Linked DNA regions of Homo sapiens. The protein of the gene in region 1 interacts with the protein of each later gene in a pairwise test. Each region holds a gene or a part of one and is shown on either strand. Other genes may lie near its edges. The genes, in order: FAM168A, BOLL, HR and SECISBP2.

Region 1 (7,025 bases):
TAAAGCCCTAGCTTTTGAAAGCCCAAAATGAAAAGTGCCTGGGAGAAATGTGTTGGTGGATTTTTTTTTTCCACAGCCGTGGTTACCTGTGTAGTAGTAATGTGTTTTTGTATCTTTACCTCATTTGATCCTCCCGATATCTTGGTGAGAAGAGAGCAGATGGAGGTATTGATAGACAGAAGCCTTTGTGGAACGAATAGCCCATGAGTTTAGGAGTTGAGTCCCAGATTCAAATCCCAGTTCTACTACTTGAAAGCTGAGTGATTTCAGTCAAGTCATTAAAAACCTTTCAGATGGCCAGGCGTGGTGGCTCACGCCAGTAGTCCCAGCACTTTGGGAGGCCGAGGTGGGTGGATCACTTGAGGTCAGGAGTTTGAGATCAGCCTGGCCAACATGGCAAAACCCCATCTCTACTACAAATACAAAAATTAGCTGGTAGCACGTGCCTGTAATCCCAGCTACTTGGGAGGCTGAGGCAGGAGAATTGCTAGAACTGGGGAGGTGGGCAGTGAGCCACGATTGCGCCATTGCACTCCAGCATAGGCAACAAGAGCGAAACTCTGTCTCAAAACAAACAAACAAAAAACAAACAAAAAACCTTTCATATTTAGTGGTAATGGCTGCAAAACATTGTGAACATAGTTAATACCACTGAATTGTACACTTAACTTTGGTTAAAAAGGTAAAAATACACACACAAAAAAACCTCAAAAACCAAAAAAACTGGCCAGGCATAGTGGCTCACGCCCATAATCCCAGACTTTGGGAGGCTGAGCTGGGAGTATTGCTTGAGCCTAGGAGTTCGAGACCAGTGAGGGCAACATAGGGAGACCCGTCTCCACAAAAAAAAAAAAAAATTTGCTGGGTGTGGTAGCGTATACCTGTAATCCCAGATACTCAGGAGGGAGGTGGGAGGATTGCTTGAGCCAGGGAGGTCAAGGCTGCAGTGAGCCATGATCGTGCTTCCCTGCACTGCAGTCTGGGTTACAGAATGAGACCCTGTCACACAATCAAACTTTCATACTTCACAAGGCTGTCAAGGGGAACAAACCAGTTCATGTCCTGAAAACACTGTACATATATGAAATATCTGTTCACTATTTATTTATTTAATGAATGTCTGCTAAGTGCCAGGGGAAATAAAAATGAACAGAAAGCAGTTGTCAAGGAGCTTTCAGTGTCATGGGAAAGATAGACAAATACGGTGAGAAAAGTGAGGCAAAATGAATGCTATGGTTAAATGTGGGTTTTGAAGTCTGTCTACCACTTACTATTAGCTGTGTGACGTTGGGCACAATGGGCTCATCTGTAAAGTGCGAATAATAGAATTAACATCATAGGATTGTTTTGAGGATTAAATAAGATAATCAATGGAAAGCATTTCACACAATATGTTTTATAGTACACATTAAAAAAATTAGTTGTTGCCTTTATTGTTAGAAAGATAGGCAGAGGCTAGAATGGTGAATAGCCTTGTGTGCCCTACCAATGAGTTCTTAGTATTGTGGTATTTATTAATGAGGTATGATTTTGTTTTATGATCTCATGCATATTTGCATGTTTACAGTCTAGGAACTTTAAACAGTTCTTTAAATGCCAAAGTCCTAAACAGATGTTAGCTGTTAGCTTCCTCATTAATAAAATAAGAAGAAAAATTATGCTCTGAGAGGTTAAATGACTTGTTTAAGGTTACACAGTCAGTGGAAAAGTCTGGGTTACAGCCCCCAAATTCTAATTTGTCATCCCCATTTATATCCTTTTTTTAAATTGTAAAATATGTCATATGTATAAAAGTATATTTAACATAAACCCACAACTTAAAGAATAACAAATTGAAGGCTTTTCTACTTGCTACCCAGCTTAACAAAAAGGAGATTTCTAGTACCTTTAAAGCCTCTTGTGAGGTCCTACTTGATTGAATCTCCCATCTTCTCTCTCCCTCAGAGATAAACAGTTTCCTAAATTTTATGTGAATCATTTCTTTGCTTTTCTTTATACTTTTACCAAATATGTGCATATCCCTAAACAGTATATTTTTTACCTTTGCAACTTTTTATAAATAGAATTATAGGATAAATATTCTTCTGACTTGCTTTATTCTTATTCTTATTTTTTAACTTTTAAAAAAGCTTTATTTCTTCCACCATTAAATAATGTGTGCTCATGATAAAAACTAGAAATTACAAAAAGTAAAAAGAAGCATAAGTATTGTTTTTAGTCCTATTACCCAGTAACACTTTTTTTTTTTTTTGGTAGAGACAGGGTCTCGCTATGTTGTCCTGGTCAAGTGATCCTCCTTCCTCGGCCTCCCAAAGTGCTTACAAATGCAGGCATGTGGCACCATGCCTGGCTGGCAAATGCTTTTTGTAGAAAATATTTTGTGCCACATATGGCCTCTGTTGTTCTTTCTCCTCCCTTCCACTCCCCTTCCTTTTTGTCTCCCCATCTCCCTCCCCGTTCTTCTCCTTCCTGAAGCCCCTCCTCTTGCTTCTCCCCATTCCTTCTTCTCCCTCCCCTTCTCTTTCTCCTCCTTTTATGTGGTTTTAAGAATGTAAAACTCACAGGCCATACAAAAATAGGCCATGGGCGGGCCATAGCTGGCCGACCCCTGGTACGTTAACAGAAATCAACTCAAAGTTGTAAAATATTGAAGAGGAAAGAGACTAAACCAAGTTCATATTTCTTTCTCTATTTTGTTAAATTTACTTCCTTGGACAGTTATGCATATCTTTAGTATTGAAAACAATGGTATAGAATTTTTTTGTCAAATTATGTTTATCTAAAAGTTTAACATTTTATTAAATGAGCCATTATTTTCTGTATGAAGACACTCTGAGAAAACCTCAGTTTATAAAGTTCCAATACACCTCCTCCTCCTGCCAGTTAGGCAGGTGTCTGGGTCCTTTCAGAATATGCCTATTTTATGATGATATAGGTTGTGCTTTTTCTTAGATATAGACATTTTGAAGGAACCCTGAGATGATATATTTTTCACAGTAAACTTCAATCCTTGGCTACTTGAGATTATGATCTTGATTTGCCTTCTGATCATGTCGCTCAAGCTTGACGATTTCTGCTAACTTGTATTTCTTTTCTAGCCTCTGTTTTATAATTTTTCTAAGTATTTTAGTTTTCTAATGTGTCTTCCTCTATCTTTTATTTTGAGTTGATAGCAAATGTCTCTATCAGTAGATAACAGCTATGCTATTTATACTTATGCAAATATAATGGCGCCATTTTATATATAGTTCTTAGGTTGGTCATGTGGCATTATTTTCATTTTAAGGATGAAGAAATTAAGACTCTAAGAGGGTAGCTGGGTGCAGTGGCTCACACCTGTAATCCCAGGATTTTGGGAGGCCAAGGTGGGAAGATCGCTTGAGCCCAGGAGTTCAAGACCAATCTGATCAACATAGTGAGATCCAGTCTCTACAAAAAACAAAAATATTATCTGGATGTGGTGGCGTGCACCTCTGTTCATAGCTATTTTGGAGGCTGAGGTGGGAGGATCACTTGAGCCCAGGAATTTGAGGCTACAGTGAGCTATGATCATACCTCTGCTCTCTAGCTTGGGCAAGACTATATCTCAATAAATAAATGAATAAAAAGATTCAAGAGGGTAATTTGTCTTAGGCCATAAGACAAGTAGGGAATTAGCAGGGAAAGACAAAAGGTACCTAACATTTGAGTGTCTATGGCAGGCAGTATGCTGGGTGCTTTCTTTTCCTTATAGATAGAATTTAATCCTCATATTTGTGTCGTATAAGGAATTGTGATCATTTTACAGAAGAAGAAACTGAAGCAACTGAGGCATATAGTGATTAACTAGTTTGCATTTGTTTACATAGCTAGTAAGAGAAGAAAAGCTCGTATTTAAAAACCTGATCTGCCTTGCTCCAGAGCCATTGTTCTTTTTGTTGTACTGCATATAAATCTTCCTGGTTTTAAGCTGTTAAATCAGTAGTCTTCTTTTTTTTTTTGAGACAGAGTCTCGCTTTGTCTCCCGGCCTGGAGTACAGTGGCACGATCTCTGCTCACTGCAAACTCTTCCTCCCAGGTTCAAGTGATTCTTCTACCTTAGCCTCTTGAGTAGCTAGGACCACAGGCCCGTGCCACCATGCCCGGCTAATTGTTTGTATTTTTGGTAGAGATGGGATTTCACCATGTTGGCCAGGCTGGTCTTGAACCCCTGACCTCAGATGATCTGCCTGCCTCGGCCTCCCAAAGTGCTGGGATTACAGGCGTGAGCCTGCACCCAGCCTAATCAGTAGTCTTCAACCTATTTAGACAGGTAGTATCTGGCTACTCTTTAGAATCACCCGAGGAGCTGTTTAAAAAAAAAAGATATGTGTCAGTTCTACTCTCGACCAGTGTTAACAAAACTTCTGTAGGTGAGCATAAGGCAGATGTGTGTATATTTATATGGAAAATATAAATTAAAAATAAATTATATTGAGGTATGTATAACATGTAGAAAAAAATGCACAAAATGTATAACCAGCATTCGGATCAAGAAAGGGAACATTATCTCCTCCTCCAAGGAAACCAACAACTTCTAATAATGTAGATTATTTTTGCCTGTTTATGACGTTTCATAGGTGTGACTGGCTTTTCATATATAATATATTTGTGAGACTCATTTATTCTTGTATGTAGGTGTAGTGTGTTCTTGCTTATTGCTATGTAGCAACAGTTTCTCAAACATTTTGGTGTCTTCACATTCATATTTATTGACAACTCCAAAGAACTTTTGCTTGCAGTGGCACAGTCATGGCTCACTGCAGCCTTGACCTACTAGGCTGAAGTGATCCTCCATCCTCAGCCTCCTAAGTAGCTGGGACTACAGGCATGTGCCACCATGCCTGGTTATTTTAAAATTTTTTTTGTAGAGACAGGATCTTGCTCAGTTGCCCAGGCTGGTCTTGAACTCCTAGGCTCAAGCAATTCTCCTGCCTCAGCCTCCCAAAGTACTGGGATTACAGGCATGAGCCACTGCCTTCAGCTGTGTTAGCATATTCTAATGAAAATAAGTATATTATTCTAAATGTAAAAAATTAGAATAATATTTTACATTTAAAACAATCTCTTTAGTATCTTATTGGATCTGCCTCAGTATTCAGTCTGTTGCAGTTTGTTGTTTTGCATGGAATATAAAGAAAATCCAGTCCCACAAAGGAGGAATTTTCTTTTTCTTTTTAGACGGAGTTTCACTCTTGTCGCCCAGGCTGGAGTGCAATGGCAGGATCTCGGCTCACTGCAACCTCCGCCTCCTGGGTTCAAGTGATTCTCCTGCCTCAGCCTCCCAAATAGCTGGGACTACAGGCGTGCGCCACCACGCCCAGCTAATTTTTGTATTTTTAGTAGAGACAGGGTTTCAGCATCTTGCCCAGGCTGGTCTTGAACTCCTGACCTCATGATCCACCCACCTTGGCCTCCCAAAGTGTTGGGATTACAGGCGTGAGCCACCGTGCCCAGCCGAAAGGAGGAATGTTTTTATATAATTGTGGATATTCCTCTTTGATACTACACCAGTCATGTCCAGCCCTTTGAATGTGAGGACTTTTTTGCTTATCTGTAGTGGATATCATGAAAATTATACACACTTTTTTTTTCTTTTTTTTTTTTTTTCAGCTTATCAGCTATCGTTAGTGTTGGTGTATTTTATGTGAAGCCCAAGTCAATTTTTCTTCCAGTGTAGCCCAGGGAAACCAAAAGGTTGGACGCCCATGTTACACCAAAACTTGACAATTGGTAGTTTGTTAAGGTTCATTGCCTTGTACAGTCTGAACCATATCACTGAGCTTTTCATGCTCTGTTACATTAAAATCCATTGGTCTGTTTTTTTCTTTATTATTTTTTAATTTGCTTATTTCTCCAAGAAAAACCATTGGTCTGTTCGTACTTTGTTAGATCTTTTACCCGTGCATAATTTTTGTAGCATTATGCGTTGGTCATTTGGAAAATATTGGTTCACTGAATATCTTAGTCTGCTCTGGCTGCCATACCAAAATGCCATAGACTGGGTGGTTTAAACAACAAAAATTTATTTTTTCGCAGTGTTGCAGGCTAGAAAGAAGTCCAAGATCAGTGTTCCAGCATGGTTAGTTTTTGGTTAGGGCTCTCTTACTGGCATCTAGATGGCCATCTTCTCGATGTTTCCTCACATGGTGGATTGGAGAGGGAGAAGAGAGAGAAAGAATAAGTGCGAGTGGACAGGCAAGCTCTCTGGTGTCTCTTTTTGAAGGCACTCATTCCATCATGGCAGCCCCACCCTCATGACCTAATCTAAACCTAATTATAAATCATCTAAACCTAATTATCTCCCAAAGGATGTGTTTCCAGATACTATCACATTGAGGAATAGGGCTTCAATTTATGAATTTTGAGGGGAGGCAGTTCAGTCTATATTATTGAGTTATTGTGGAGCATCTTTTTTGAGACCGGGTTTCACACTGGAGTGCAGTGGTGCATTCACGACTCACTTTGGCCTCAACTTCCTGGGCTCACGTGGTCATGTAATCCTGCCACCTCAGCCTCCCGTGTAGCTGAGACTTCAGGTGCAGGCCACCGTGTCTTGCTAATTTTTGTAGTTTTTCATAGAGACGGGATTTCACTGTGTTGCCCAGGCTGGTCTCCAACTCCTGGGCTCAAGTGATACCCCTGACCCAGCCTCCCAAAGTGCTGGAATTACAGATGTGGGCCACCGCACCTGGCCATGTGCAGATCTTCTGAACTGTATAATGTTTAAGAACCCACATTTGTTAATATCACCACTCATCTCATCAGACAAATCTTTTCTAATTTTCATTTGAAAGCTCAAATTTTATCATAGGCAACCAATACTGACAGTTGTTTTCGTTGAAGTGACAGTCTCACATTGTTCATTTTCAAAAAATTGTCTGCCAAACATCCAAGTCTGAATAATCATAGTTTTTCTGCCAGTCGTTTTTTCAAGTAAAAATGGTGTTTATTAAAGCAGCCAGTACAGTTTGCAACTCAATTGCACAAGTGCTTTAGTGCTTTTC
Region 2 (7,025 bases), on another chromosome or scaffold:
GTTTTTGCTTGTCTATGAAAGAGCTGGTTTTTTTAGAGACAGAGTATAGTGACATGATCATAGCTCACTGCAGTGTCAAACTCGTGAGCTCAAGTAATCCCTCCCACCTTAGCCTGCCACACAGCTGAGACTACAGGCATGTGCCCTGCCTGCTAATTTTTTTTAAGAGATAGGGTCTTGCTATGTTGCCCAGGCTGGTCTCAAATTCCTGGGCTCAGGCAATCTTCCTGCCTTAGTCTCCCAAAGCACTGGGATTACAAGTATGAGCCACCACACCTGGCCTTGTGAAAGATCGTATTTCTCCTTCATTTCTGAAGGATAGCTTTACTGGGTATAATATTCTTGGCTGGCAGGTTTTTTTCCTTCAATATTTTGAATATATCTAAATATATCATCCCATTCTCCCTGGTAAGATTTCTGCTAAGAAATCTGCTGTTAGTATAATGGGGATTCCTTTAATTGTGACTTGATACTTTTTTCTTGCTGCTTTTAAAATTCTTTCTTTCTCTTTGACTTTTAACAATTTGACTATAATGTGCCTCTGAGAGGATCTGTTTAGATTGAATCTGCTAGATTCAACCTATCTGCTAGGGTAGTCTCTGTTTAGTCTCTTAAGCTGTAATACTCTCTAGTTGTGTTTCCAAGTTTCTCAGTGACCTAGCAAAAGAGAGTCTATGACAATGGTGGTAGGGCTTTGCCAGGGGTGGGCTTGCTGAGCTGTTCCTCAGGTCAGGGCTGTGTACATGAACATGGTAAGTCTGGCTCACTGGGCTTGGGGCCACAGGGCTGTTACTCTGGCTGAGAGCACAGGCATGCAGTTTCTCAGCCAGCCTGGAGGAGTGCCCACCAGAGGCAGCCTGTGGGGCTGTTTCTCAGGTCTGGTATGCAGGCACATGGCTCCTTCGCTGGCCTGGGGGTGCATCTGCTGGGGACAGCCCATGGGACTGTTTCTCAGGCCTGGAATACAGCTGCATGGCTGTTCAGTCGGCTAGGGACATGTTTGTCAGGGGCTGTTTCTCCGGCTCAGGATGCAGGTGCACAACTGCTCACCTGGCCTAGGGGCATGTCTGCTGGGGGTGGCCCACGGAGCTATTTCTCAAGTCTGGGACATAGGCACAGGGTGGATCACCCGGCCTGGAAACGTTTCTGTGAGGGCTGTTTCATAGGCCCAGAATGCAGGCACAGGGCTATTGGTCGGCCTGGGATCATGCCCACTGGAAGCAGCCTATGGGGCTGCTTTTCAGGCCTGGGACACAGGCTCCAGGCTGCTCAGCTGTCCTGGGGACGTGTCTGCTGGAGGGGTGGGCACGAGGCCATTTCTTAGGCCTGAGGCATGGACACACAGCCACTCCACTCCCCTGGGGACATTTCTGCCAGTGGCAGTCCCCGGAGCTGTTTCTTGGGCTCTAATTGCATGCACAGGGTAGGTCAGGGGCTTGTCTGCAGGGCGTGAGGCACCTCTGGGCTGTTTCTCAGCCCTGTATGCAGGTGTGTAACCATTCCATCCCGGCAGCATGTCAGCTACTACGAGGCTTGAGGACCTGTCCTGCTCAGGAGAGTGCAGCAGTTTGACCAGCTAAAGAGTGGGTTCACCCTGGGCAGGTCAGCCAGATTGTTCCTCTAGCTGGAGGTGAGGGCAACAGACGTTGGTTTCCCTACTGTACAGAACCAGAATCACAGCCAATCTTGAGCCTCAGGTTCCATGCTGCTGAGGTTGTGTTCAGCCACTGGTGTGTACTTGGCAGAATGAAAATGGAACCCCAGTACTGGAGACGTGCAATAGCTACTGGCCCCCTAGAGATGACTATGGCTTCAAGATGCTGTCACGCTGTAGCAGCTTCGCTCACAGGGTGGGGTTGAGGGGGTGGGGAGTACACACTTTGTACTCCTAATTCGGGGCAATGCAGCCACGAATTCCCAGCAGCTCTTCAAACTGTGAGACTGTGGGATTCTCCTGTTGCAAGGAGTGTGGCTGTTTGCAGTAGCAATGCAGGCTGGTGGGGATCTTCTGCTTACCTTTTCCCTGCAATAAGAAACTGCAGGACTCCAGGCAGAACCAATCCTAGCAGAAGAGAAGGGTTTGCAGAGGCTGGGTGGCTCCATGCTGCGCTCCTGGATTTGCAATCACCACAGGTGTGTCTCCACTCCCCTGCGGCACTCCAGCACTCTCCTTTTGATGCTCCTGTCAAATTGTAGCTGTTTATTCTTTGCCTTAGTCTTTTCTTGTGGCGGGGTGGGGAGCCAGTGGAAAATGAATGCTAGGCATCTCTGGTCAGCCATCTTGCTGACATCATGCCTCTCTTTTTTTACGAGGGAATTAAACAATGTCATACAAGAAGATGGATGGACTCTTTGCTTCCTTTTACCAAATGTGATGAGGTCAGTTTTGCTCCCCTGGCTAACATTTAGATCTAAAAAGTCTTTAGCAATAATTCCCCAAGTAAGATACAGGTATTGGACTGCAAGCTGGTTTTTTAATGTTAACATATGTCAGTTTCTTGCTATATTATATTTAACATAATTTATATTAAAGCAAATAATATATTGTGGTTTATTATATATTATGATATCCTCTTTCAGTTAACCAGCACTCTTCATTAATTTTAGTGAGAAATTGGGGATAAGTGAACTATAATGCCAGATCATTCTGGTCTATAGCAGGGTCATCAAACTATGGCTTGCAGACCAAACTCCAGCCAGCAGCCTGTTTTTGTAAATAAAACATTATTGGAACACAGCCACATTTGTTTACTTATTGTCTATGGCTGTTTTTGTGCTACAGTAGATGAGTTGAGTCTTCTTTTTCCCCTTATCCCAGTGCTAGGCAACCAGTAATCTACTTACCTGTTTTTCTAGATTTGCCTATTCTGGATATATCCTATAAAAACAATCATACAATATGTGGTCTTTTGTGACAGGCTTCTTTCATTTAGCATAATGATTTCAAGATTTATCTATGTCATGATAAATGAGACATGACATATCTCAGTACTTCGTTCTCAAATAATATCCCATTGTATGGATACACTGTACCACATTCTGTTTATCCATTCATCAGATGATGGACACTTGAGTTGTTTCTACTTTTTGACTGTTATAAATGATACTGCGATGGACATTCACATACAAATTTTTATGTGAACACATATTTTTATTTCTCTTAGGTTTTATAACTAGAGTGGAATTGCTGGGTCATACGGTAACTTTGTTTAACCTTTTAAGGAAGTGTTTATTTTCCCAAAGGGCTGCGCCATTTTACATTCCCACCAGCAGATTATGAGGGTTCTAATTTCTCCACGTGCCCGTCAACATTTATGATCTACTTTTTTGATTAAAGCCATCCTAGTAGGTATGAAGTGATGTTGTATTATGGTTTTGATTTGTATTTCCCTGAAGGCTAGTGGTGTCGAGCATTATTTCTTGTGTTTATTGGCCATATGTATATCTTCTTTGGAGAAAAGTCTATTCATATCATTTACCAATTTTTAAGTTGGGTTACTTGTCTTTTGATTATTGAGTTGTAAGAGTTCTTTATACATTCTTGATATAAGTTCCATGTTTTCTCTCATCCTGTGGGTTGTATTTTCACTTGCACAAAAGTTTTTTAAAGTTTTGATGAAATCTAATTTAACTATTTTTTGTTGTTGCTTTGTTGTTTATGCTTTTGGAACCATAATTTTAAAAACATTTCCTAATTCAAGGTCACAGGCATTTACACCTATGTTTTTTTCTAAGAGATGTATAATTTTAGCTCTTACATTTAAGTCTCTGGTCCATTTTGAGTTAATTTTTGTATATGGCTTGAGTTAATTTTTGTATATGGTGTGAGGGTCCAACTTCATATTTTTGCCTGTAGATATCTAGTTTTAACCCTTGTTTATAATCAGAATGGGTTTTTCTTTTCTTTTATTTAATTTTAGGCCACCACACAGTATTTACCAGGACAGTGGCAGTGGAGTGTTCCTCAGGTAAATGTTAACTTTCAATATATAATTTTAAATCCTTCTTTCATTATATTCTTGTGATGACTGCATGAATACTAAAGTTTTTTAGATTTGAGACCTTCTTCTTCTGTTTATTAACTTATTCTTTTGGCAGTTCATTTTCAGTTTCTTCATTTGTAAAATGGATATAATGATACTATACCTTTGTAAGTTTCCTTACATGATTTTTGTGAATATCAAATGATAATGCATAAGTGAAAGCATTTTATAAATGTGTACTGTATAAACATGAAAACTTACCCTTTTTTACTATTAGTGTTATTTGAAAATTTAGCATTTTTCTAACTTCATTTGGATTTGGCTTCAGTTTTTATTCTGTTCCTAAATAAGTATTCTATTTCCCAACTTTTGGTAACAAATAGTACTTCACCAAAAAAGTTTCACATTTTCCCACTTTCATTAGAAGTCACAGAGCTGAGAGTAGACATTTATGTCAATTTAAATACCATAGATCACATTATCACAACCTTTACTGGTGACATTAATATAACCATAATTATTATCTGAATTTATATATGAGGTTCTCAGTCATTAAGAAGTTCTAGTGCTTACCAATGATAAGATTCTTTAACTACATCTACACAGTTGGAATTTATAACAGATCAGTTTCTAATCCGTTGCTGAGATACTTCTGTGCTATTCCTAAAAAAAAATTTAGTAAAATAAAAAACAAGTACTTCTCTCATCTGTTGGCTAAGTCATTTGGTTTAACAGAAATAACTAATCATATTTGAATTAGAAATATGGTTTTGTATTTTAGCCTTCTGCCTCTTCTGCTCCATTCTTATACCTGCAACCTTCTGAGGTTATTTATCAACCAGTGGAAATTGCACAGGATGGTGGATGTGTTCCTCCTCCACTGTCTCTGATGGAAACTTCAGTTCCAGAGGTATGTATTAGTCTTAAAGTAATTGATCTATAACTACCTCATGTTAACATTTATTTCTTTTTCTCTTTTTTAAATTTGTTCACGACCCTCATTGAAACTGCTTCATCTTTGTTTTGTTGATTTATTCAAATCTCTTCCCCTTTCTTATATCTAAGAATGCATCATCTTAGACTTTTTCGCTAACTAGTTCTGAACCATTTCCCAAATCAACCATTCACTCCACTAAGCTAATCTTTGATTTGATCTTTTTGAAATAGTAAAATTCCAAATACTCTGCATTCTCATTTTGCCTGTCAATCTGTATTGTTACTAACATTCTATTAGTCAAAAGCATATAATTAAGATGAAGAAGAAAAAAAATCTTTAAAAAAATTCTTCCTACAAAAATGTAAATTAAATTTATAATTACAAATTTTAATATCCTCTTCAGCATCTTTAAATTATATTTCTGATCCGTTACTTATAGCTTCACCATCTGTATGCCAGGAACTGTGCATGGTATGTTTTATTTTATATTTTTTATTTTATATTATTTTAAGTTCCAGTACATATGTGTAGGATGTGCAGGTTTATTACATAGGTAAACCTGTGCCATGTTGGTTTGCTGCATCTATCAACCCATCACCTAGGTGTTAAGCCTGGCATGCATTAGCTATCTTTCCTGATGCTCTCCCTTCCCAGCCCCGACACGTCCCAATGTGTGTTGTGCCCCTCCCTGTGTCCATGTGTTTCTCATTGTTCAGCTCCCACTTACAAGTGAGAACGTGCAGTGTTTGGTTTTCTGTCCCTGTGTTAGTTTGCTGAGGATAATGGCTTCCAGCTCCATCCATGTCCCAGCAAAGGACATGATCTCTTTCCTTTTTATGGCTGCATAGCATTCCATGATGTATATGTACCACATTTTCTTTATCGAGTCTATCACAGATGAGCATTTGTGTTGATTCCATGTCTTTGCTATTGTGAATAGTGCTGCAATGAACATACACATGCATATATCTTTATAATAGAATGATTTATATTCTTTGGGTATATACCCAGTAATGGGATTGCTGGGTCAAATGGTATTTCTGCCTCTAGGTCTTTGAGGAATCACCACACTGTCTTCCACAATGGTTGAACTAATTTACATTTCCACCAACAGTGTAAAAAAGCGTTCCTGTTTCTCCACAGCCTCACCAGCATCTGTTGTTCCTTGACTTTTTAATAATCGCCATTCTGACTGGTGTGAGATGGTATCTCATTGTGTTGATTAGCATTTCTCCAATGATCAGTGATGCTGAGCTTTTTTTATGTTTGTTGGCTGGATAAATGTCTTCTTTTGAGAAGTGTCTGTTCGTGTCCTTTGCCGACTTTTTAACGAGGTTCTTTGTTTTTTTCTTGTGAATTTGTTTAAATTCCTTGTACATTATGGATATTGGACTTTTGTCAGATGGATAGATTGCAAAAATTTTCTCCCATTCTATAGGTTGTCTGTTGACTCTGATGATAGTTTCTTTTGCTGAGCAGAAGCTCTTTAGTTAATTAAATCCCATTTGTCAATTTTTGCTTAGTTGCAATTGCTTTTGATGTTTTCATCATGAAGTCTTTGCCCGTGCCTGTGTCCTGAATGAATAGTATTGCCTATATTGTCTTCTATGGTTTGTGTGTGTGTGTGTGTGTGTGTGTGTGTGTGTGTGTTTTGGGGTTTTTTTGTTTGTTTTTTGTTTTGTTTTTTGAGACGGAGTCTTGCTCCATCGCCCAGGCTAGAGTGCAATGGTGTGGTCTCGGCTCACTGCAACCTCCACCTCCCAGGTTCGAGTGATTCTCCTGCCTCAGCCTCCTGAGTAGCTGGGACTACAGGCACGTGCCACCATGCCCAGCTGGCTAATATTTTCATATTTTTAGTAGAGACGGGGTTTCACCGTGTTGGCCAGGATGGTCTCGAGCTCCTGACCTCATGATCCACCTGCCTCGGCCTCCCAAAGTGCTGGGATTACAGGTATGAGCCACTGCACCCAGCCCTTCTGTGGTTTCTATAGTTTCGGGTTTTACATTTAAGTCTTTAATCCATCTTGAGTTAATTTTTGTATAAGGTGTAAGGAACGGGTCCAGTTTCAATTTTCTATATATGGCTAAACAGTTTTCCCAGGACC
Region 3 (7,363 bases), on another chromosome or scaffold:
GTCCTGGCAACCCCCACCTCCTCCCCCAGGATTTCTCAGACGTCCCCACAAGGAAGTCTAAGAACTAAAGAGTGAATGCCTGGCACAGCCAAAGGGCATCTGGGGTCTGTTTGGGCCATTTGGTGTCCTGTGCCATACTGAGTTTTAAGTGTTTTAACATCTCATCCCTGGGAGTGGGAGTCATCTATGGAGGAGGTACCCTAGACATGGGCCATGGGGTCCCCTGCACATCCCAGTCTCAGATAGAGGGCCCTTGTCTGCCCACCCATCTCCTCCCAGGACAAGCCACACATTCCAAGGCCACAGTTCCCAGGACCTTATCCTAGGCAGACAATGGGTGAGTCAGTGGCTGCAATGACCCGAGGGCAGGGGAGGCCTAGAGAGATGGAGCTGCTCAGGGTAGGGCTTGCTTGGGGTTGACTGTGGGGCCTGGGACAGCTCCAAGCTGATAGACCCCTCTACCTCGGTGCTGCCTTCTCTTTTCATCACAGTGGAAGGGCATCTTGGGGACCACCGAGCAACTTTGCTAGGCCAGAGCCACAGGTACCCTCTCTGCCCCTGCACTCACCTTGCTGCCTAAGCTGAAGGCAGAGGGCACTTTGGGCTGGCCCCCGGAGTATACCCAGGGGTGCGGGGTCAGGGGCCAGTCACATGGATGCTCTGGGGGCAGGCCAGACACTAGGTAGGGTGGCAAGCAGGTGGGCACCCAGAAGGGAGCTCGCTCCAGGATCTTGGTCTCCAGAAGGAAAGGGCAGTGCCAGGGCCGGAAGGCCACAGGGTCACTCTTGAGATGGCCACCACTATGCTCAGGCATCAGGGGGCCACAGCGAGGTGGGCACGCTGGCCCGCAGAATGCCAGCGGATGGGTAAGCATGGCCTCCTTCCAGCGCAGTCCCTCTTTGCTGCCCAGCCAGTTGACCTTCCTCTCCCCATTCTGGGGGCCCTCGCCCTCCACAAGTGGGAGCATGTCCTTGGGGCCCTGGGGGAAGCCAGGGGGAAGCCAGGAGTCTGGGGTGCTCAGGACGCCCCTCCAAAAGGGAGCAGGCTCTCCCAGGCACAGCGGCCCATGGTGCAGTCCATCTCGAGGCGGGCTGCCGGGCTCCTGTCTCACGATGCCGTTCTCTGGGGCCGTCTTCTCCCAGGTTGGGGTGCCCTTCAGGAAGCTGGGCGTACTCTCCATCACTCTCCTGCCCTCATGGGGCTCTCCCAGAGGGGGGTCCCTGGAGCATAACCATCAAAGCATGAGCTTCTGGGGCACATGTCCCAAGCACCTTACAGCCTGGCACAGAGTGGGCACCGCCCTGGCAACACTGAGGCAGCTCAAACCAGTAAGGCAAGTGCCAGCCCACAACTGGGCACCATGCTGCCTCTCCACATGCAGCCAGACACATCTTGCTCCTCCAGTGTGGGGATGTTACCCCTTCCCCAAATTCCACCTGGGCCAGTGCCCCTCAGCGGAGGCTGCCATTGCTAGTAGGGCATGTCCTGGCCTCACCAAGCTAGGAATCTGCTCACGACCCATGAGGGAGGACAGAAAGTGGAAGGCACTGAATGAAGAAAAAGGCTGGATCCTGAGCCTGACTCTGTCCTATGCTGTATGGCCTTGGGCAAATCATGTCACTCCTCTGGGCCTCAGTGTGCCCTTGAGGCTTGGGTCGGCTCAGAGGATTCTTCCCATCCTGCAATCCGTGGTTTTGGGGGTGCTGCTAGCCCAACCCTAGCCTACAGCCCCAGCCAGGCTTGTAGCCGTGGGAAGTGCAGGCCTGGCAGGCTGGAGTCGCTGGGGAACGCTGCCAGCCAGGGCCGCTGGCTGTGTCTCTCTCTACACCTGGGCGGCCCTGAGTCAGCCTCTTCCCAGAGCCCTGCAGTTTCTCGGCTTCTCAAGCAGAGTCCCAGGACAACTGCAGGGGGCTAGGAACCCCGCCCTGGCCCCCAGCGGGAAGAGCGCGCCGGCACAGGGGAGGGGGATTAAGAAGCCTCAGCTGGATGGGTCAAGCTGCCCTAGCCCAGCCAGCAGTGCCAGGGCAGCCGCCACCGCCGCTGGAAACTTCAGCCTGGCGGGGAGGGGAGAGGGAAGGAGGCGGGGAAAGCGGGCTGGGCCCCAGAGAGAGGCAAGGGAGGGAAAATTGAACGTGCGTGCAAGGGACCAGGATGACAGGTGGCACTAGAGCGGCAGCGCTGCCTTGGCGCGGTCCCTTCGGCCAGAGCGACGAAGCCCCAGGCGGGAGGTGACGGCGCAGTGGCAGAGGGCGCCCAGGTTTTCTGGAGCCACCGCTCCGCCGTGGTCTGGCCGCGTCGGGCTTCCTAACTTTCAGGTGTCAGAATGTGTGGCCCAGCCCACAGGGGCACGGGGAACACGCTCCGTACGGGCACCGCAGGCTCGGCTCAGAAATCCCCCGCCACGAGTGTCCCCAGACGGCGCGCTCCTGGCGCTTACCTGGGCTTCACCGGCCGGTCGCGGCGCGGGCGGTGGCGGTCGTCGTGGCCGGCACCGGGCGCCTGCTCCCCATGGGCCAGCTCCGGGGCCTCCCGGCCGGCGGGCGAGGACGCGTTCTCCCGCTCTGTCTGCTCAGCGCGCTCGCGCTCTCCTTCCCCCGGGGCGGCGGGGGCGCTCTAGGGCCGCAGGTTGGAGGGGTCGGACTCCGGGATCTGCAGGATGCGGCACACGGCGCGGATCGGCCGCACCAGCTTCTGGGCCGAGGCCGTAGGTTGCGCCATGGGACGCCGAGACTCCGTGCTGCGCCGCGGGGAGGGCCGGGCCGGGGCTAGGGAGCGGGTGCCCCCGGAGGGAGAGAAGGCGCCGGGCCGGGGGGAACACGCGCCCCGGGTCGGAGATGGCCGAGTTGGGGGAAAGGCCGAGGGGCCGGGGAAGGGGGTCGTGCCTGGATGGTGGGGGCCGATCCTGGGACCCAGGAGAGAGGCACCGGCGAGGGCGCAGCACCGCGCAGCGCGGCTAATGGAGGTAGAGCGCGGCGGAGAGCGCAGCAGGACCTCTGATCGCCATCGCCAGAAGCGCAACTGAGAGTGGGGAAGCTGCTCCGCCGGTTTCCTCCTCCAGCACCCTGCGGGAAACAGGAGCCCGTGATTCGGCGGCCGCGCCTGGGCCTGCCCCCTCCCGGGCCCCGGGGGCTTCCGCCAACGCCCCGGCGATGCCACCGGCTGCGCACGGGGAGAATGAGCCCTTTGTTCCCCCTCCCCCCCGCGGCACCCGGGCGCCTGCCGAGAGAGGCTCCCCCGGGGCAGCGTGCCAGCTTCCCAGCCGCCCCACCCTCCCGTGGGCCCGGCCCCGGAGCCTGGCAGGCGGGCGGCACCCCCACTATAGGTGCCAAGCCCGGGAACTGGAGCAAAGGGCGGGAGGGGCCGGACCAGGCCACGGTTGGGCGGGGTGCCCCCCAGGGTGCTAGGGCGGGGCGGCTGGGAGGGGGCAGTGCCAGAGCTGGCAGGGGCAGTCGAGTTCTCACGGGTCAGTGATGGGCGCTCTGGCCCACGCCAACCGGGCTGTGCCTGCCGGGCCACTGGCTCCTGGTCCTCTCCATCTGTGGCACATGGCACGCCCCACTGGCCTGTGTCTGCCCTGCCTCATCCTCACCTGGCCAAGCTGCTCTTTGCCATCTTCCACCCCAAACCCTTCCCAAACCTCTTCCAGAGCCCAAGGGCACAAAGGGTTGCGTCCTAGGACCTCTGGGAGGGCCTGGGCTTGGGTCTGTCCCTGGTCTAAGGGCCTTGATTTTGCCAAATGTCTGGAGAGGTCATGGGCCCAGATGAGCTCCGACACCGGCTCCAGACCCCGGGCTGTGAGGGTCTGCCCCATCCCCAGGGTTCCTGGTGCTTCCAGGCCAGGGGCTGGAGAGGCGCCCATGGGAGTGGCTCCCGGGAGAGTGCAGAGAGGAGGAGAGGAAATGGAAAAGCAGGGCACCCTCCACCCGAGGAAGCATCCCGGCTCCGCTGCGGGGGTGGTTCCAGTGCAGACACAAACAGACAGATTCAAACACACACAGACAGATTCAGACTCACACAGAAACCCACACGCCCAACGGGCGCTTCCCTTCCCCTCAGGCACCCACCTCCCACCCTCGGCTCCCCTGCCTCCCTGCGGAAGCCAACCTTGGCCTGCCTGGGACAGAAGCTGCACTCCCTCTTTCCCATCCCTTGCAAGCGATGGGTTCTGGATGCCTCTAGCTTGGTCCCAAGTCACACCACCATCCCTGCAGAGGGGAGCCCTGAATAGCCAGGAGCCTTCCTCCTAAGGGATGAGCAAGGCCTAGAGCCTTCTACCGGTTGAGAAGAGTGGGGGTCCTGGGGAGCGGGGGTCTAAAGGAGCGGGCACTGGGCCGGACTTGGGCCATGTTGGCATCCATTCACCCTGCCCCTGGCCTGCCCCCAGAGGCCAGTTCTGTGGCAAGGCAGGCTGGTAGGGGTTGTTTACATGACTGAGTTAGTAACACTCCCTTCCTCCCCAGCTCCCCTGAGGGTGGCTGGGACCTGAGTGTGCCAGGGGAGATGCTTGTAGAGGGTCTAACATGGACTGGAGGCCCCAGGCCCTGAGGCCCGGCCTCCCACTCCCAGGCTGGCTCCAGGGGTGAAGGTAAGGGCTGGGGTGTGTCTGTGGTCCCCCATCTGTGTTCTCTGTGCTCCCTCCTCAGCAGCCGAAGCTTGTGGGAGTGCCAGGGGGAGATTCCTGCGGCTTGGGGCCTCGGAGAGGCCAAGATGGGAGCCTGCGCTGTCCAGAACCCTGAGGACCTATCGCTGACATCCCCAAAGGGGATGGGGACTATCCCAGGGGAGTGGGGCAGATATCCCCCCCAACCCCAGTTGCCATGTCTGCTTTGTCAGGCCACGGTCCCTGGACTAGAGTAGCAGGGCTCTTGGGGACAGGCTCCTGAAAAGCCCAGGGGCTCGTGGGGACTCGCGGGATGGGAGGAAGGACCCCTTCCCCACCCTCGCCCAGCTCCCCATCCCGCTTTGGAGCCCATGCCACAGGCCCACAGAGTCCTTGTAGCCGGCTGTTCTGTGCCTGAAGACGGAGCAGAGCTGAGGAGACACACAAAAGACACAAACACAGAAGAAAAGCCACACGGCGCGTGGACACAATGCCAGACTTGTGGACAAAGGCAAGCTGACCAGCACCCCCAGCCATTCAGGGGCCAAGCCCCAGCCCCGCACCGACCCCTGGCTCACTGACACACACTCACTCGCTGACACACGCTCGTGCTGACGGGCACAGCAGCACTCACGAGCCGGCGGCCCTCATGCCATCCCCAGAGCCCCTTACCTGGGCAAGCACAGTGCCCCCCGGGCGGAGCAGCCCCCGGCCCAGGGGAGGGCAGCAGGCGGGGGCGGGGGAAGGAGCCCCGGAGAGTCAGGCCAAGCTGCCACTAATCCGGGCGGGGAGAGGGGGGGCACCCACGTCAGAGCGGGGACTGCCGGGTGGAGGGCATCTGAGGACATCCCCTCCCACACACGCGGCCGTCTGGGCACCTAGCCCTGCTTCCCCAGCCCCTCCATCCTTCAGACAGCTGAGGCTGGCCTCCCCCCACCCCACCCCCCACCCTGTGGCAACGCCTGGTGGGGGATGGGGAAGGGGGAATACCAGGCGAATTCTCCCGGGACCCGCGGGGGTGGGGGCAGGGTGTGGGGAGGAGGGGAAGGGAAGTGTGGGGATGCGTTTGGAACCCGGAGGAAGCTCCAAAGCAGATGCCGCCATCCCCTCCCGCCCACCCACCTACATCCCTAACCTAATTCCTCTTCTCAGTCTGCACCTCCCAGTGCGCTTCCTCCTCCCCCCACCTCCCCTCCCCTCCAGGTTACCCCCACAAGCTACCCACCGGGGAGAGGAAGCCAGCTCCACTCTGCCCTGGGCTTGAGACCTTTGTGCCTACCCGGAAACACCAACTGTGGCCCCCAGGACTTCTCCAGCAGCAGAGAATCCTCCTCCTGCCCAGGCGTCTGCCCCCTACCCAGCTCTTGAGACCTCTGGTCCCTGATGCTGGGTAGAGGATGGAGCCAGAGGCTGAGTGCCACCTCCTTAACCCCCTCAAGGTGGAGGGCAGTGCCAACCAGGATGCCCCAACCCAGCCTGGGCCAGGGCTGTGTCAGAACTAGAGGCTAATCAGTGACAGCTAAAAATACAGCCAGTGCGTGCGGCGCACATGGAGGCTGGAGACGGGGAAGGGGACCAGGACACGGAGGGCCCCAGGCCTAGAGGGACAGTGATGGGGGCTGAAGAGTCAGGGAGGGAGAGGAGCCACCTGGAAGGGCCAAGGGATGGCTGTGGGTGGAGAGCAGAGAGAAGAGAGGGGCAAGAACAGAGGGCGATCCGCACCCAGAAACCAGGGTGGATATGCAGGAACCCCTCAAAAGCAGACAAGCTGCAGGGGAGGTGAGGAGTGAGACCAGGGCACAAACCAAGTGGGGCAGGGGCCAGGACCCAGCAGAGGTGTGCAGCTCTAAGGGGACTGGCTGTGGCAGCTTTGTGTCCCCACCAGCCCTGATCCTGCTCGTGGCCCACTGTCTGGTGGCGAGAAGAGGGTTGGGGGTGCTTAGGCAGGCTGGCATGCAGCCTCCTCTTCCAAGAGAGGCCAGGCCAGAGGGGGTGGAGGGTGAGACAGTAACCCCCTCCAGTGTGCAACTGGAGGCAAAGTGTGCAACTGCTGGGCAAAGGTGAGGTCTCAGGGGTTCTCAGAGAGGCAGGGCTGGCTCTCAGGGAAGCCCAGTTGACAACCAGTGCCCTGAGCCTCCGGGTCCCATGTGTGCTCACCCAGAAATGCCCCAGAATTTGGACTTCTCCTGGCTCCTTCCCCTCTGTCCCCAGCATGTGTTGGAATTCATACAACTGCAGTCAGCCGTTCACCAAACCCGTGTTCTAGGGGCCTTGGCATGTTCAAGGCTTGGCGGTGGGCCCCAGGCGATGCAGGGCACAAAGGCAGAAATCACGAGGCCATCCCACCCGCCCGGCCTCCCCCACCCAGAACATATGGTCACTTCACGCATTTGTTCTTTCACCAGCAAAACTCCTCCAGGCTTCTTAGGTATTGGCCCTGTGCTGGGCGCTGGGGGTGTTGGGCTTGTTCATGAATGATTACAAGATGCTTCTAGTCCCACCCTGGGGAAGTCAGGGGAACTTCATGGAGGAGATCAGAGAATGAGATCAGGACTTCACCACCCAGTCGCGAAGTTACAAAAGTATTTCACTTCGGTTAGACCATTTGTTCCAGGCTGAGCTACAACAGTGTGTAAAATACGTCTGTCCTTTATGAAGTCACAACACAGTGGGGGAGAAAAGGTCACATGCTCAAGGCAACAACAGAAGTCTGTGCAAGAACAGAGGTGGTGTGGTCCAGACAGCAAACCACTCCGAGGTGAG
Region 4 (7,025 bases), on another chromosome or scaffold:
GAAACCCCATCTCTACTACAGAAATACAAAAATTAGCCGGGTGTGGTGGCAGGTGCCTGTAATCCCAGTTACTCGGGAGGCTGAGGTAGAGAATTGCTTGAACCCAGGAGATGGAGGTTGCAGTGAGCCAAGACTGCGCCACTGCACTTCAGCCTGGGCAACAGAACAAGACTCTCTCTCAAAAAAAAAAAAATAGTTTTCTTAACTCTTCTTTTTTAGCTTTGGTTTATGACCAAGGAAAAGTATTCACGCCTGGCAAGAAAACAAGGATAAGGAAGGCATTAAGTTGAAGAGGAAGAGTTAGAAAGGAAAAGATCCTTTAAAGTGGGGATGAAATAATGAGACTTCACATGGTTGAGAATTGATTATCTGAGCAGTTCTAATATAGATTAAAAATTGCATTGCCATAGTCAGATTACATGTAAATGGAGATCTCTTGCTGCTGTGACAAAAGGAATAGAAGTTTCTGAAACAACTATTTCCTCCTTCTTACTTGTTCAACTACATAGCATCCTAAGTCAACTTTGTATGTCCCCTTCCCTCATCTTTCCTTAAAGAAGGTATAGTAACCTTTTACAGAATTTGTCCTCCTCCAGTACCTTTCACAGTGCACTCAAAGATGCTCATTTATTCATTTGGAATTAATTATTGAAAGTCTTCCATAGTTTTGAAGTGATGGAGATGAAAATGAACATACCAGACTCTTCCATATTTATGTTATAGGACAAGACAAAGAAATTAGAAGTAGTCTGATAGATAACATTTGCCATGTTTGGAAAATACTGATTATTTACTGATGTAATGAACAAATTTGCCTATGCAAACAAAATAAGTTTCTTCCAAGTAATGTCCATTGTCATGTTACATCCTTTGTGAAAAATCCTGTGCAACCTGTGTATGAGGATGTGTGCCTTTTGTTTGGGTATTATTGTATACTTCCACTTCTTTCATAGTTACTACAATCCATGAGGTGGCAGGCAGATGTAATGTTATTTTGCACATGGGAAACTGAAGCTAGGAATGTTTGTTCATGCTAATTCAAATAGGTAGCACCAGAACCAGAATTAACGTGCTATTCTTCAAAATTGCTGCTGCTATTGACAAGAGGTAGTTGAGCATTTTCACCATCTGCCAATATACTGTGAAAATTTTAGTACCAATTGATGCTTTTGAGTTAAAGCAGATCAGCTATGAGAAGAACTAGTGGTATACAACATTGTACAGCTGAGCACGTGGCTCGGTGGGTGGAGGAGAAACTGCATCCCCTTTGGGTCGTTGCCTGACTGAAGGGACCATGTGCATGATATGTTTGGGAGATAGTAGAGGAATAAAGTGATAATTTTGGGGGGAAGCTGTCAGTAGATTGGAAGCCTGCATAGTACAGCTGAAAAGTTTTAGGTTTGCTGGGTAGGCAATAGGGAACTTTTGGTAGTGTCTTAAATGGGGTCATTGTAATCACTCCTAAATTTTGGAAAGATTTTTAAAGAAGAGGGTCTTGAAGGCTTTGACCAGGTTCTAGGCACTGGAAATAGTAAAGAAACTACATGAGAGAACTGTTGAAATAAAAAAGAGCCCCATGATTGTCCGTACAGGTTTTGGTGGGAAAGATGTTACAAAAATATTCGGTTGAATACATGGAAATAATTGTAGGATCATACATGAGAACAGAAGTTGTAAATGGGGCTGTTTTGGGGAATGGATGTTAAATTTGGGATTTATACGTGCTGAATTGGGAAAAAGTGAAATAGTAAGTGGAAATGACCTGAAAGTTGGAGATGGAGGCCTGGACTAGGGAAGGTGCTGGATTGTTTATATTTATGTCAAGTCCTAAGCAGAAAGATAAGAGGTTCTGACCCAGAATGTGTCAGATGGGTGAGATAAGGAGGGTGTAGAGGAGACTGCACTAGGGAAAGAGACAGAGATAGAGCCTTGGAGGGCAGGTGAGAGCCAGGCGAGCAAAGTCCAGGCCAGGGAGCTTTTCAAGTCATGTGATGGTCAAGCCAGACCCAACGGGTGCCTGGAGGGAGAGGCAAGAAGGAGGTCCTGGGAGACCTGGAAGCCGTTGGTGGGAAAGGGGCAAAGGGAAGTGGAGCCAGGAGACCAGCAGGTATTGCACAATTACTCAGACAGTTTGATTTTAGTATGGATGGGGTAGCTTAGGACAGTGAATGAGAAACAGGTGTGTTACTGTGGGTTTAGGGTCATCTGGGCCACTCCTGGCATCTGGAATTTCCCAGACATGCCATTTGAAGCCACGCCAGATGCTGTGAGTTACTGCTTTGATGTTTTGTATTTTGTGTTGTTTTCTGCATGTAATTGTGTTTGCACTGGATGGAAATGGAAAATACCAACTTTCCAGAGGAGGAAGGACCAGTGAGGGGACAGAAACCCAAATGACTTACCCAGAATAGAAAACTGGATTGTGATTGAGCTAGGACCCCAACCAAGGTCTCCTGACTCCTGGATGAAAATTTCCTGGATGACAGCAGCCGTCAAAACCAATGGAACCTGTCCCTGCTTTCCTTTTTAGCTACATTTCATTTGTCTGTTCATTTATCTATTTATTGGACTTGGGACAGTCTTTTTCACATTTTTTTTTCTGTCAACTCATCTTTTATGAAGAACAGATTATCCACCTTCAGTGACACTTGCCCCCCACTAGCTTTTCTCAACTACAAACAAAATACAGCACAGAATTCACAGGAACATGTAGGCAGTGGGATGAAGCTTTGAGCCTCTTTTCTACAAAGAGCTAGTCCTCAGTGCTGTATGTTTGGAGCAGTGCTAGGCCAGTTGTTTTGTTGGACAGACAAAGGTCAGTAAAAAGGGGTTTATTTGATTTTTAATTAGGAATATTTCATGTTAAAGTTACTTACCTGTAAGTAAAAGATCTTAGAAAATCTAAGTTAACATATCATGAAATAGTAAACAGTGAGATGAGAGAATATATGATTAAGTACTGGATAGAAGTGAAAGCAGTAAACGTTATTATATTATAGGTAGAGCCTGTAGTCTCCCTTTCTTATTCAGTGTAGTCTGTTACTTGCAGCGCATTAGAAATATGATTTCTAGTAAGCGGTGCTTATGCTCATATCTCCTGACAGCGTAGCAGTTTGAAGGTCTTAAAGGGTGTGTCATGACTAGGTTTGGATTTTTTGCCTTTCAGTGTACTAGTACATTTTGGAATAGCTCCGGAAATTAACAGAAACATTTGCTGGAAGGAGGAGGTTACTATTTGTATTTTAAATCAGTTGCTTAGCATTTTGTCATTGTATCAGCTTTCATGGGAAAAAGGTTGAAACCTGTAGCCTTGTATCAAATTGGCTAAAAAAGAAAAATTAGTGTTAAATTATATTTTGGTTTAGTCTAGCAGCTTGGGATAAATTGAGGCAATAGCAACCTTCAAAGCTGGTGTCCATCTGTTAGTAAAGTGTGTAGTTAACATCCACGGTGCCGTGCGGTGTCTGCTTTGCGCTCTGACCCTGTTAGTCAGCAAAGCGCAGGATGTCATGGTGGGCTTGGAGCAGGGAAGGGCTGGAGAAAACCATTTGCAGGAGCCTTGGTGGAGGCATTGCAGGCTGTTGGGTCTCCCCGCAGCAGAGAGAATGGTCTTTAGGGGCATTTTGGCCAGGGTTGCTGGGAGAGGCTTTCCCAAATACTTGGTAGCAATTGGGTGAAAAGCTGCTGGAGCATCTTCTGGCTCTGTTGATGTTTCTTACGGACTTCCAGCTCATTAGTGAAAAAATAGAGTCAACATCTTTCTTTGCAGGGTGAGAAAGAAACACCCAGAGATTTTATTTGGCTTTTAATTAGGGATTATTCCAGTGCTAGAGTGAATGGTCTCAGAAATATTAAATGTTCAGTTTGAATTAGTTTATTACAGAAAAGCTTCTTGGTTTGCAGTATGAAATCTGCAACTAAAGTTTACACTTTTTACTTAGGCAGAAAATATATACTGAAGACATGGCCTTTGGAGCTTCAACTTTTCCACCTCAGTATTTATCTTCTGAGATAACTCTTCATCCATATGCCTATTCTCCTTATACCCTTGACTCCACACAGAATGTTTACTCAGTGCCTGGCTCCCAGTATCTTTATAACCAACCCAGTTGTTACCGAGGTTTTCAAACAGTGAAGCATCGAAATGAGAACACATGCCCTCTCCCACAAGAAATGAAAGCTCTGTTTAAGGTGAGTAGTGATGTTGTTTTGTTGTGTCCTTTAGTTGGTTGCTTTAATGTTTAAAATGTAAAGAAATGGTAAATTTGTACATCATATTTAAGTATCATGTATTTTTTTGTATTTAACCTTTTAAAAAATGATTGAATTGTGAATACTTAATATTTTGCTGCTTTAAACCTTTTTTATAGTGGTGGTTTTATTTCATGTTGCTTTTTAATCTTTCCTGCAGAAGAAAACCTATGATGAGAAAAAAACGTATGATCAGCAAAAGTTTGACAGTGAAAGGGCTGATGGAACTATATCATCTGAGATAAAATCAGCTAGAGGTTCACATCATTTGTCCATTTACGCTGAGAATAGTTTGAAATCAGGTAAAAATAACCAACAATGTAGTATAATGCGAGCCTACTCCTTGTGCCCCAGAAACATTCCTGCTATGTATACAGCTGTTTCTATGGGCTTGTTCATTGTGACTACTCCAAGAAATGAGACCTGGGTCTGACACAGCTTAGGGCGTCAGACTTCCTGAGCAATTCTAGAGGTATTTCTTCCCAGGGATGGGATTATTATTTGGTACCTGTTGCATTGTGGGATCTTAAGTGCCTATAATTTGTATTATTTGGTATATACATTTTTCTCTTTTCATTGACTTCACTCATAAACCATCTGGTACAAGGGACGTTTATTAACTGTAGTAACTGTGGTCTTATAATTAAATGAGTGGCTTCATGTAGCTGCAGCCTACCTTATCCATTGCATTTCAGGAGAAAGATGGGGAAGAGGTTATGCGTTTTATGCTACCTGCTTCCCTCTAGTTTATTCCAGCAAACTGAAAGATGGAAAGTTTACTAGCACAGAAAATTCATTAGAGTCCCTTTAAATTTGCAATACAATAAAATGTCTAAAAAGAATAATTAAAATGCCCAGCTGCACAATCAGGTTAAGGTAACTATTTCATCAGCCTTAGAATTATAGTCATGCCTCACTTACTGATGGGGACACATTCTGAGAAATGTGCCCTTAGGTGATTTCGTCATTGTGGGAACATTTAGAGTGTACTTACACAGACCTAGATGGTATAGCCAACCACCTAGCTAGGCTATATGATATAGCCTGTTGTTCCTAGGTTATAAACCTTTAGACCATATTATTGTACTGAATATTGTAGGCAGTTGTAACATAGTGGTAAGTATTTGTGTATCAAAATATAGAAAAGGTACAGCGGTGGCTCACGCCTGTAATCCCAGCACTTTGGGAGTCCGAGACGGGCGGATCACGAGGTCAGGAGATCAAGATCATCCTGGCTAACACGGTGAAACCCCGTCTCAACTGAAAATACAAAATATTAGCCTGGCGTGGTGGCGGGCACCTGTAGTTCCAGCTACTCGGGAGGCTGAGGCAGGAGAATGGCATGAACCCGGGAGGCGGAGCTTGCAGTGAGCCGAGATCAAGCGTCCCTGCACTCCAGCCTGGGAGACAGAGCGAGACTCCGTCTCCAAAAAAAAAAAAAAGATATAAAATGTTTTACCCGTATAGGGCACTTACCATGAATGGAGCTGGCAGAACTGGAAGTTGCTCTGGGTGATTCGATGACTGAGTGGTGGGTGAATGTGAAGGCCTAGGGTGTTACTGTACACTGTTGGAGACGTTCTAAACATTGTACACTTAGGCTACATGAAATTTATAAAAGTATTTTTTTCAATAATTAACCTTAGCTTACTGTAACTTTTTTACTTTATACATTTTTAATTTTTCTAACTTTCTGACTCTTGTAATAACACTTACCTTTTGTAATAAAACACAAACATGCAGAAAAACCAAAAATACTTGGCTTGGACAAAAATATTTTCTTTCTTTACATCCTTACTCTATAAGCTTTTTTCTATTAATTTTTTTTTAACTTTCTACACTTTTTAATTAAAAACGAAGACACAACCACACACATTAGCCTAGGCCTGTACAGGGTCAGAATCATCTGTATCACTGTCTTCCACCTCCACATATTGTCCCACTGGAAGGTCTTCAGGGACAGTAACATGCGTGGAGCTGTCATCTCCTGTGATAACAATGCCTTATTCTGGAATCCCTCCTGAGGGACCTGCCTGAAGCTGCTTTATACTTAAGTTTTTCTTTTGTCGTTTTGTGTTTTTTTTTTTTTTTTGAGACAGAGTCTCACTGTGTTACACAGGCTGGAGTGCAGTGGCACTATTTTGGCTCACTGCAACCTCTGCCTCCCAAGTTCAAGCAATTCTTGTGCCTCAGCCTCCCAAGTAGCTAGGGGGCATGCGCCCCCACACCCAGCTAATTTTTGTATTTTCAATAGAGTTGGGGTTTTACCATGTTGGCCAGGCTGGTCTGGAACTCGTGGCTGCATCTGCCTGCCTCAGCCTCCCGAAGTGCTGGGATTAAGGCGTGAGCCACCTTGCCCTGGCCAAATTTTTCTTTTGTAAGTAGTGGGAGTATATACTCCAAAGATAAAAAGTATAATACATAAACAAGTGACATAGTTGTTTATTGTCATTACCGAGTATTATGTACAGTACATCATCGCATGTACTATACTTTTATATGCCTGTTAGCTCAGTAGGTTTGTTTACACTGGCATCACCACAAACGTGAGTAATCGCACCATGACATTACCAGTAGACAATAGGAATTTTTCAGCTTCATTACAATCTTATGGGGCTGTTGTATACGTAATCCATTGCTGATCAGACCATCATATGTGGCGCGTGACTATACATACTCCTAAATGTACAGTGCATTTTGGTTTTTCTGCATGATGGTCCAACCAGAGTGATTGATACTTATGGTCATTTAAACTTTATACTTTTACAAAGGAA

What was found.
Region 2: the proteins of FAM168A (region 1) and BOLL interact in binary tests that used the Homo sapiens proteins (3 or more experiments, as listed by UniProt).
Region 3: the proteins of FAM168A (region 1) and HR interact in binary tests that used the Homo sapiens proteins (3 or more experiments, as listed by UniProt).
Region 4: the proteins of FAM168A (region 1) and SECISBP2 interact in binary tests that used the Homo sapiens proteins (3 or more experiments, as listed by UniProt).

Annotation. Positions count from the first base shown.
Region 1 is NC_000011.10:73,588,099-73,595,123, reverse strand, and holds part of FAM168A (protein FAM168A), read left to right. Parts: intron 1-7,025.
Region 2 is NC_000002.12:197,754,296-197,761,320, reverse strand, and holds part of BOLL (protein boule-like), read left to right. Parts: intron 1-2,313; coding exon of another isoform or gene 2,314-2,379; intron 2,380-3,164; coding exon of another isoform or gene 3,165-3,173; exon of another isoform or gene 3,174-3,188; intron 3,189-3,920; coding exon 3,921-3,968; intron 3,969-4,764; coding exon 4,765-4,893; intron 4,894-5,359; coding exon of another isoform or gene 5,360-5,391; intron 5,392-7,025. UniProt on the Homo sapiens protein: Probable RNA-binding protein, which may be required during spermatogenesis. May act by binding to the 3'-UTR of mRNAs and regulating their translation.
Region 3 is NC_000008.11:22,127,991-22,135,353, forward strand, and holds the start of HR (lysine-specific demethylase hairless), read right to left. Parts: upstream 3,021-7,363; 5' UTR 2,719-3,020; coding exon of another isoform or gene 2,614-2,718; 5' UTR 2,438-2,613; intron 1,221-2,437; 5' UTR 1,181-1,220; coding exon 569-1,180; intron 1-568. Other genes in the region: protein HRURF, read right to left, coding at 2,614-2,718. UniProt on the Homo sapiens protein: Histone demethylase that specifically demethylates both mono- and dimethylated 'Lys-9' of histone H3. May act as a transcription regulator controlling hair biology (via targeting of collagens), neural activity, and cell cycle.
Region 4 is NC_000009.12:89,321,486-89,328,510, forward strand, and holds part of SECISBP2 (selenocysteine insertion sequence-binding protein 2), read left to right. Parts: intron 1-3,941; coding exon 3,942-4,191; intron 4,192-4,411; coding exon 4,412-4,553; intron 4,554-7,025. UniProt on the Homo sapiens protein: mRNA-binding protein that binds to the SECIS (selenocysteine insertion sequence) element present in the 3'-UTR of mRNAs encoding selenoproteins and facilitates the incorporation of the rare amino acid selenocysteine.